2 linked regions of the Homo sapiens genome follow. The protein of the gene in region 1 interacts with the protein of each later gene in a pairwise test. Each region holds a gene or a part of one and is shown in the gene's direction. Other genes may lie near its edges.

Evidence for each region. The genes of interacting proteins can lie anywhere in the genome.
Region 2: the proteins of OCIAD2 (region 1) and GLP1R interact in a protein complementation assay, tested with the Homo sapiens proteins (one large-scale study listed by BioGRID).

What each region holds. Positions count from the first base shown.
Region 1 is NC_000004.12:48,903,324-48,908,896, reverse strand, and holds the start of OCIAD2 (OCIA domain-containing protein 2), read left to right. Parts: upstream 1-2,122; 5' UTR 2,123-2,239; intron 2,240-4,262; exon of another isoform or gene 4,263-4,285; 5' UTR 4,286-4,347; coding exon 4,348-4,413; intron 4,414-5,573. UniProt on the Homo sapiens protein: Has an essential role in the assembly of mitochondrial respiratory chain complex III. Is also required for STAT3 activation and plays a role in cell migration.
Region 2 is NC_000006.12:39,079,781-39,084,037, forward strand, and holds part of GLP1R (glucagon-like peptide 1 receptor precursor), read left to right. Parts: intron 1-917; coding exon 918-959; intron 960-4,257.

The sequences.
Region 1 (5,573 bases):
AACAACAGTATCTTGACAGTCATTGAACCTAGGCTCACTTATTCATTCATTCATTCATTCATTCATTCAACAAATATTTATTGAGCCCCTTCTATATCCAAGATGCTACACAATGGTGAACAAAACTGACACCATCTTGTTCTGAACCTCATGAAGATTACTCTGCAGCAGGGAAAATATGCTTTATATAAATGAACACACTAATAAGTACATAATGAGTTGTGATAAGTGCTATGAAGGAAAACAATAGTGTCCTGTGCTATGAAAAAGAAGAAAGGCCTGCCTTAGGCTGGGGTCAAGGAAGATTTTCCTGAGGAACAGTCAAAAAGAAGGAGTAGGAAAAAGCCAGGACAGGACCAATCGGGAGAGGCTGCAGGCAGGGGAGGGCCTCCAGTGGAAAAGAGCTGTGTGAATCTGAGAAACAACAAGTTGGAGGTGTGGATCGGGGAGGCGTGAGGAGGAAGCGGCCACAGGTACAGGGACCAATTCGCACAATAGGAAAAGGTGAGAAATGAAGAGGGCCTTCAGTGGAGATCCACAGCCTCTCTCCAAGTCAACACACTCAGTCAGTCCTGGCAGCTCAGCCCAGAAAACTTTGTCAGCCATGGCTGGGGTAACTGTGTCCAGAGGTGTTTGAACAAGAGCCACTCCATCTTGAATAGGGACTGAGTAAAATAAGGCTGAAACCTACTGGGCTGCCTTCCCAGGTGGTTCAGCATTCTTAGTCACAGGATGAGATAGAAGGTTGGCACAAGGTACAGGTCACAAAGACTTTGCTGATGAAACAGGACTCAGTAAAGAAGCCAGCCAAGACCCACCAAAATCAAGATGGTCATGAAAGTGACCTCTGGTCGTCCTCATTACTCATTAAATGCTAATTTTAATGCATTAGCCTGATAAAAGACCCTCCCACCAGGGCCATGACAGTTTACAAGTGCCATGGCAACGTCAGAAAGTTACCCTATATGGTCTAAAAAGTGAAGGAACCCTCAGTTCCGGGAATTGCCCACCCTTTTCCTGGAAAATTCATGAATAATCCACCCCTTGTTTAGCATAGAATCAAGAAATAACTACCAGTATAATTAGCTAAGCAGCCCACACAGCTGCTCTGCCAGTGGAGTAGCCATTCTTTTTTGTTGTTGTTCTTCTTGTTTTTTGTTTTTTTTTTGTTTTTTTTTTTTTTGAGACAGAGTCTGGCTCTGTCGCCCAAGCTGGAGTGCAGTGGCGCAATCTCGGCTCACTGCAACCTCTGCCTCCGGAGTTCAAGCGATTCTCCTGCCTCAGCCTCCCGAGTAGCTGGGATTACAGGCATAGAGCACCATGCCTGGCTAACTTTTCGTATTTTTAGTAGAGAGAGTGTTTCACCATGTTGGCCAGGCTGGTCTGAACTCCTGAGCTCAAGTGATCTGCCTGCCTTTGCCTCCCAAAGTGTTGGGATTATGGGCGTGAGCCACCGCACCCGGCCTGTTTTCTATACTTCCTTAATAAACTTGCTCTCACTCTACGGACTCACCCCGAATTCTTTCTTGCGAGAAGTCCAAGAACCCTCGCTTGGGGTCTGGATCGGGACCCCTCTCCGGTAACAAGTGATATCGGTATTAAAGGTACCCCCACATGTCAAAGGCTTCCCTCCACAAGTCAGAGTTGGGGAGGGACAGGAGGCAGCAGGGGACCGACAAAGAGCAATGGAAAGAGAAGGCCTGGGAGCCAAGCAGGCCTGGGGTTGACTCCAGGCTCCCTTAGTGGCCTGCACAACTCAGATGACCCGTCTGTGAAGTGCAGGTCACAGTGGGCACCACACACGGCTGCAGAAAGGAGTGCAAAGGTGATGCCCACGCCTGGCCTAGGGCGGGGGCGCAATACATGGCTGTTGCGGCTGTGATTGCTGGAGGAAGGGAGTCATTTGGAAGGCACAAAGGAACTAGAACCTACTCGGTGTCGGGACAAGCCTCAAGGATGGGGCAGGGGTTCCGGCAAGAGCTGGGTTCCAGCCTGGGTTGCCACCAACAGCGAAAGTGACTGCCAGGTGGCAGTAGGGTGACTTCACCAGCTTAAGTGCTTAGCGGGCAGGCGAGGGGGCGGAGCAAGAGAAGAAAACACAAAGGGCCGGAAGGAAGCCGGGGAGACAGGTGGGGTACTCGGGAAGCTGGAGCGGGCCGGCGGTGCAGTCACGGGGGAGCGAGGCCTGCTGGGCTTGGCAACGAGGGACTCGGCCTCGGAGGCGACCCAGACCACACAGGTGAGCCCCCGCCCCGGGGAGTGTTGACGGCGGGAGGGGGTGGCCTCGGGGGAACGCGGCGCCGCAGGGCAGTCCTTCGAAGGCCGCGCGGTGCAGCGGTGGCCGCCCCCCACTCTCCCCTAACTCGGACCCCGGCGGCCCCGGCACGGGCGAGGGGCTGGGGAGCTTGGGGTGGCGCTGGCTGCTTCTGGCCAGGGATGGCAGCGGACTCCAGTAGGCTGACTCCCGGCTTCCCCGACCGCATCAGAAAGTGCAGTGTCCCCCGTCCGCCGTCCAGCCCTGCAGGCGCCCCCCTCCAAGCCATCCTAAGAAGCACCCCCGCCCCCCATGCTGGGGCGCGCCCTCCTCCGCACATTCGTCGGTCAGCACCCACGAACCCACGGGTCCCTTCCCCACCACTGAGGAAACAGAGGGTCCCCGGACCACCCCAGCGTGGGGGGTGGGAGCTACACCTGCAAGGCAAGACCCTCGGAAGGCTTGCTTTTAGGTGCAGACTGAGGACTAAGTGGGTGCCAGGGGACCTGGCCACCGAAGCTGAGAGGTATATTTGCCTCCCAATATAGGGCAGCGGCCTAATGGCTAAGCAAAGATAATCTAATTTGGCGTGGTCAGCAAAGACTTCCTGGGAGTGCTCAGGAAATGGAAGGTGTGCAGGGGCTTTATGGACGTATCCCTCATCCTCATCCTCATCCTAGTCTTCATTCCTGCAAGAGCCCCTCACCATTGTTGTGTCCATTATGCCCAATTAACAGTGGAGAAAGCTGAGGCAGAGACGGATTAAGTCATTTGCACCAAAGGGATCGCAGGGGTAAAGAGTCACGATTTGAACTCTGGTCTCTCTGACCCCAGTACTTTCCCGTGCAGGGCACCGTGCTGCCCCTGTAATCACATTAGACACCTGTGATGAAACTTGGTGCGAGTACGGGTCCCCTTGGCTCAAATGCCTCAAAGTTTAGTAACTGATGTAGGAAACAGAATTGTATATAAGAGGTTCATTTTGCAGAAGAAAAGCAGAGGTAGAGGTAGAGTTCAGGGCTGCAGAATGCAGTGGCCACTGGGGGCAGGAGGAGGCTCAAAGTCCACCTGGATTATGTCCATCATTGCCAAATCCAGGGTCCACTTTTCTAAGCCATGTGATGGTGTTGATGATTCACTCCCTCCTTCAGAAATTCCCTCCCCTCTGTATCAGCTATTCCTTCTCAGTCATTTCCTTGGCCTGCTTTTTTTTTTTTAATCTTTCTTCTCTTTTCGATATTCCCTTGGGCTCAGTGTTCATATTCTCCAGTACTGTTTTTAGACACATTTATTAAAGTTCCCTGCTTTAACTCTCATCTCTATGATGGCAGCTCCCAACTTCATCTCTCTAGCCTACCCCTGTTCTGGAACTCTAGACCCAAATCGTCAAATATTAACAGTGGCTAATTCCACTGTTTGCCCCCACAGGCACCCAAATCCAACATTTCCAAACCCAAATTTAGCATCTCTATCAAAGATGCTAAATTCCCACCAGGGTCTTTGTTCACGTCCCTGTAACTCCTTGTCTGGACTAGTGTACCACCTTCCAACCTGGTCCTCCTGCCCCAGAGTCCATCTACCCTCCACAGATCCTCCTGAAAGCTTAGGAGTCCTAGTTCCTTTGTGACATGACTAGATGGAATGGACCCTGCTTTCTTTTCTTCCTTAGCATCCCATGCATACTTTTCATGTTGTGTAACTGTTGACTTGTCTATCTCCCCTTTTGGACTGTGAATTCCTTCACAGCGGTGATCTTGTCTTATCCTTCTTCATATCCCCTGGCCTGGCACATAATCGACACTCAGTGCACAGTGTGGTATTTCCACTCTATTCTAAATCTGATCTGTCCCCATTAGTGAGTGCATGTATGTGTGCTGGTGGAAGAGGAGCACTGGAAGTTGAGTTTGCAGATGGACTAATGACAAAAGGAAAAACACATTTTCCAAATAACTCCAGTGGATCCTCAGGATGCTTTTAAGCTTGATGCAAACATTTAGTCATGGCATAGTGATTCTCTTCTACCTTCCTTAGACACTGGGTCAAGGAGTAAGCAGAGGATAAACAACTGGAAGGAGAGCAAGCACAAAGTCATCATGGCTTCAGCGTCTGCTCGTGGAAACCAAGATAAAGATGCCCATTTTCCACCACCAAGCAAGCAGGTATACTTTTATATTTATTGATCGATTCATTGATTGAGACACGATCTCACACTGTCACCCAGACTGGAGTGCAGTGGTGCAGTCATGGCTCACTGCAGTCTCGAACTGCTGGATTAAGTGATCCTCCTACTTGAGCTTCTCACTTAACTGGGATGACAGGTGCAGGCCCACATGCCTGGCTAATTTTTTTTGTGGTTAGACATGAGGTCTCACTATATTGCCCAAGCTGGTCTCAAACACCTGGCCTCAATTAATCCTCCTATCTAGGCCTGCCAAAGTGCTGGGATTACAGGCGTGAGCCACCATGCCTGGTCAGGTATACTTTTAATTGCAGGACCTGCCATCTGAAAAAATATATATCATAGGATTTTTATTAAATTTCAACTTTAACCAGTCATCTTATTTTTTTCAGTCTGGCACTTTGTTGGATGGGCTTAGGGAAAATAGGATGGGGAAGGAAAGTGTGTTTTCAGCTGCTTTGAAAAGAAGCTGAAATTTAAAATTTAAAATTTAAAATTTTATTTACAAAACTCTTTCTTGGCTGGGCGCGGTGGCTCACGCCTGTAATCCCAGCACTTTGGGAGGCCGAGGCGGGTGGATCACGAGGTCAAGAGATCGAGACCATCCTGGCCAACATAGTGAAATCCCATCTCTACTAAAAATACAAAAAAATAGCCGGGCATGGTGGCTGGTGCCTGTAGTCCCAGCTACTCAGGAGGCTGAGGCAGGAGAATGGCATGAACCCAGGAGGCGGAGCTTGCAGTGAGCCGAGATCAGGCCGCTGCACTCCAGCCTGGCAACAGAGCGAGACTCTGTCTCAAAAAAAAGAAAAAAAAAAAAAAAAAAAACCCTTTCTTTACTCTTTCCTGTTTGTAATCCAGCCTTACTAACTCTTAGATGAACTGTCAGTGACTGAAGAGGTTTCTGATAGCAGAGCAAAACTCTTAATAGACTCTAACAGAGTGATACATGTTGCTTATTTATTTTTATTTATCCTTTCATTTATTTTTTAGAGATGGGGGTCTCATTATATTGCCCAGGCTGGTCTCAAACTCCTGAGCTCAAATGATCCTCCCACCTCAGCCTCCCAAAGTGCTGAGATTACAGGCAATATTTTGCTTATTTTTTTACATTTATATTACTGTAAGTAATCACACTAA
Region 2 (4,257 bases), on another chromosome or scaffold:
TGGAAAAGGTGGGAAGACTGGGACCTGGAGGGGTGATCCCTGCCCAAAGTCACCTAGTTGGAGCAGAGCCAGAACTAGTATCCCCAGGTGTCCCAATACCTGGGCCAGTCTTCTCTGTAAGCACATGGGACAAGAAGCCTTCCTGGATGTAGCTCTGGGTACCAGCCTGGCATTGCAGCTGCCATCTACTTGGTGGCGAGCACCCTGCCAGGTGCTTTACATGCATTGTGCATTTACTCCTCACAGAACCCAGGAGATGTGCAGGGTTAGCCTCACTTTACAGAGGAGACTCAGAGGTGTTAAAACCAGAGTTACGGTGTCACAGTTTCAAAGAAAAGAACTGATCCTCTCCACTAGCATTAGATGATGCTAAGGGGGTGTAAAAATACAAAAAAACTGGTCCCTGCCTGCCCCTCAAGAGTGTCATGAGATGCCTGCACACATGTGGGCTCATGTGTGTGTATTTACATACATGTGCAGACATACAGAACACAATTCTGGAGCCCTGGGTCTCCTTCATGAACAGATGGGGCTGGAGTGGGGAATATTCTCCATGATCAGAGTCATTGTACTTCACTGGATCAGGCCTCCTCAAGGAGAGGTTGGATGTAGGATCTCTACAGCTTCTGGGCAGCTTCTGAGCAGGGTCTCCTGGACCCCATGGCACATGCCTGGGAGACCCATGGGGAGAGGCTAGCTGGGGCCTGTAGCCAGGCCTAGTCGCAGAGGTGCAACCCTGGTGTTCCTTCAGAAAGGAAATGAGAGGGAAGCCACTGCCCCATTCCTGGATCTGCCTGGGCCGCTGGATTTGGGGAGGGGGTTGTTGAGGATGGAGTCCCAAAGTGCTTCCGACCAGGGCCAGTCTGCAGGGCACCTCCCTCCTGCTTCCTCCCTCTTGATGTGACTCTTGTTTCCAGGGGCTGATGGTGGCCATATTATACTGCTTTGTCAACAATGAGGTAAGCTCTGAGGAGGGACGGTGGGGACCCTGGTGGGTGGGTACCATCAGCCCGTCTGGAGTAGTACAATGGGGACTCCCATCAATCTTGCCAGCTGAAACCCCCTACTCACCTCACTGAGGCACTAGGGTTGAGAAGCCATCTTGTCCACAGATTTGGTTTTCTGTGCATGGTCTCTCTCACACATGAACACACACACACAAGTACATGTACAGGTATACCCTAATGGCATGTGACCCTAAGGAAGACCCAGACTCATGTTAAGGGGATCCTGAATGACCCTCTTTGCTTGGTGGTAGTGACTGTCACTTACAAAGTGATTCAACACACACATACCCAAGCCACATGCTTGGGGCTTTAATAATCACTATCTCATTTAATTATGACCCCCACATCCCTCAAAAAAAAACCCTGCTAAAATTCTTATTTCATATTCCCATTTTTTATATATACATGAAAACACTGAAGATCAGAAAGAGTCAGGAACCTGCCCTAGGTTTGGAAATAGTGGCACACATCGCTTCTTAGCCTTTTGGCTAAGGTGAAGTGTGGAAATAGTGGCATGGCAGAGCCAGGATTCAAATTAATTCTGCATTAAAGCAGAAAGTACCCCATTCTTCATACACACAGGCAAGAGCCCTGGCTCACTGTGGGGAAGGGGGTGGCTTTCTGGTGCTAGGATGGGAGAAGGGGGTTCTCGCTGGCCCCACACACTCTCCTGAAAATGTCTGCAGGACAGCAGGCCTCCCTCCCATCCCTGAGATGGTCAGCTCCTGGGAGGAGGGCATGGCTGTGTTCATGGGCACCTGGAAAAGGCCCCTTCCACCAAGGTACTCAGCTTTGGAATCCCAGAGCTCAGGGATGTTGGAGTCAGCACATTAATAGGCTTGTCTTTTTCTATGGGTGTGGGGGATGCAGAAAGGACAGTGGGTGGGGACCTGGGTGTTTCAAGGAGCTATGAGATGGCTCAAAGAAGCAATGTGATGTAGCAGAAAAGATGCAAGGATGCAGGCTTTGGCATCTTATTTGGTCTGATCTGGGCCCCATCACTTAATGAGCTGTGTGACTTTGCCTAAGTTACCTGCCCACTCTGAAACTTAGTTTGCTCATTTACAAAGTGGGGATAATCCTGTGAGGATTAAGAAAGTCTGAAAAAGGTGCGAAAGGGGAACAGAGAACAAGTCCTTCCTTCAAGGTGGGATGCTGAAGGCCCATCCTAGCTCCTCACAGGTGCTGCTTGGCATGGAGAAACACACACCATTATCTCCAGATGCTCAGTAAGCAATCACTATTAGATCAGTATTCAGTGATTCCCAGAGACAGGGGCCTAAGGAATTTCAGAGGATGCCGTGCAGAGAAAATGAGGCTGGGTGAAAGGGAAGGGAGGGGAATGTTCCCTTGTCCCTGAGGCCTCCCCCTGCTTCTGCTGAACTGGCTACCTGTGGGAAGTGTGGCCCTCAGATCTCTAAATGGGAGGGAAACCAAGGTCTCTTAAGGGTTTACTGCATATAAGGTGCTCAGAGTGTCTCATTACATCCAATGCTGTGCAGCAGATGGTATCCCCAATTCACAGCTAAGAACGTTAAGCCTCAGCAAAATGAAATGAGTAGCCTAATTCAATAGACAGAAGATGGTAGAGCTAGTGGGCTGTGGCGGGGGCAAGATCCCACTTAATGCCTCAGGGAAGCAGGTGCTGGGGAGGTGAAGGCAGCGCCAGGCAAAGAGTGGCCCATAAATGGGATTCTGGCTGCTCCTGGGACAGGTCTTAGAGGACCCAGCGGCTCCGTTTGGAGGGTAGGGCAGGGAACAGGCTCGTGACCCACAGGAGGCAGTCCTGGTCCTCCTCCACTGCCATATCCTCAAAATGAGTTTCTTTAAAACTGATGCAAACGAGGAAGTGCAAAAACCTAAGCTCTGTGGGTGGCCTCCCCTCCAGGAATGCTCTCAGCCAGCTGGGTGATGCGCTACCCAGCCCTGAGCTCTGCTGCTTTCCATTCCAGCCCAGTGGTGATGGGGGCAAGACAGGGTGGCATGTATCCTGTGTGGGGATGAGGAGCAGAGGCCTGTAGGGAGAGACTGAGGCTCCCTGCTGCCACCTTGTCATCTTGACCCCCCCACGTCCCCGTTTCTCACTTCTCTATCCTCTGACACTGTCACTGCAGCCCTACTAGCAGACACGTGTGCTTGGCTTCCCCCCCGCCATTGTGAACAGTCTCCCCTGACCCCTGGCTCAGCTGCCTCTCCAGATTCCATCCTTCCAAGCCTAGTCATCTCATCACCTCCCTCCTCATGCACCACCTATGGCTGGCCCACCTTTGTAAGGGGATAGTACTTCTTTGCCCTTGGAAAAAAACTTGATCCTGAATCACCAGGGTTGCACCTCTCTGACCAGGCCTGGCTACAGACCCCAGCTAGCATCTCCCCGTGGATCTTCCAGGCTAGTGCCACGGGGTCCAGGAGACCCTGCTCAGAGAACGGGAGAACCTGTCTCCCTTCAGAGCACCAGCCAGTTCCTTTAAACCCACCCTGAGACTCCTCATGCCCTGGCTGCTCCAGGCACAAGGACAGATACATCATTGTCACTGGGCCACAAAAGACACATGTGGCTCTGGGGCTAAGGCCTCTGTCCACAAGAGCTGTTCTGCAGACCCAGGGTTGCCATGGCAATGCCAGGTACTTGTGACCTGAGGAGAAAAGATGGCTTGAATATTGGTTCTGTGTGGCTGCCAAGGCCTGCACCAGCTGCTGGTGGGCGTGAGTGGGGACAGGGAGGGGGAGGCCTGAAGGTGGTTTTGCTGTAGCTTGTGCCTGAGAGCCACAGTGAGGTGACTCAGAGCCCTGAGTGCTTGTCCCAGCCCTGCCACTGCCGAGCTGTGTGACCTGGGGCAAGTCATTTTGCCTCCCTTGCCTCTGTCTCCCCAGCCGTAAATGAAGGTGAATGAGCTTCCCAATTCACCCCGAATCCTGAGGCTGGCATGGTGCCTGCTGGAGAGGGAGGTCAGGAGGGGTGTGCTGCACTGCAGAGGTCGAGGGCAGGGATGAGGATAAAAATCCGATGGTGGAGGAGGAAGTGTGGTGGCCTAAGTCCCAGCCCAGGTGCTCAGAATCTGTGGTGTTGTCTTTGTGGGTTCATTTTCATAGCTGAGGAACAGAAGGAACCTGATGTGAGATGCTCATGCATTTATGTGTTCATTCATTTGGTTCATTTAAAACACATGTACTGAGCACCTGCTGTATGCTGGGCACTGTGCTAGGTTCAGGGATGCTGAGATGAAGAAGATGTGGTCCCAGCCCTCGA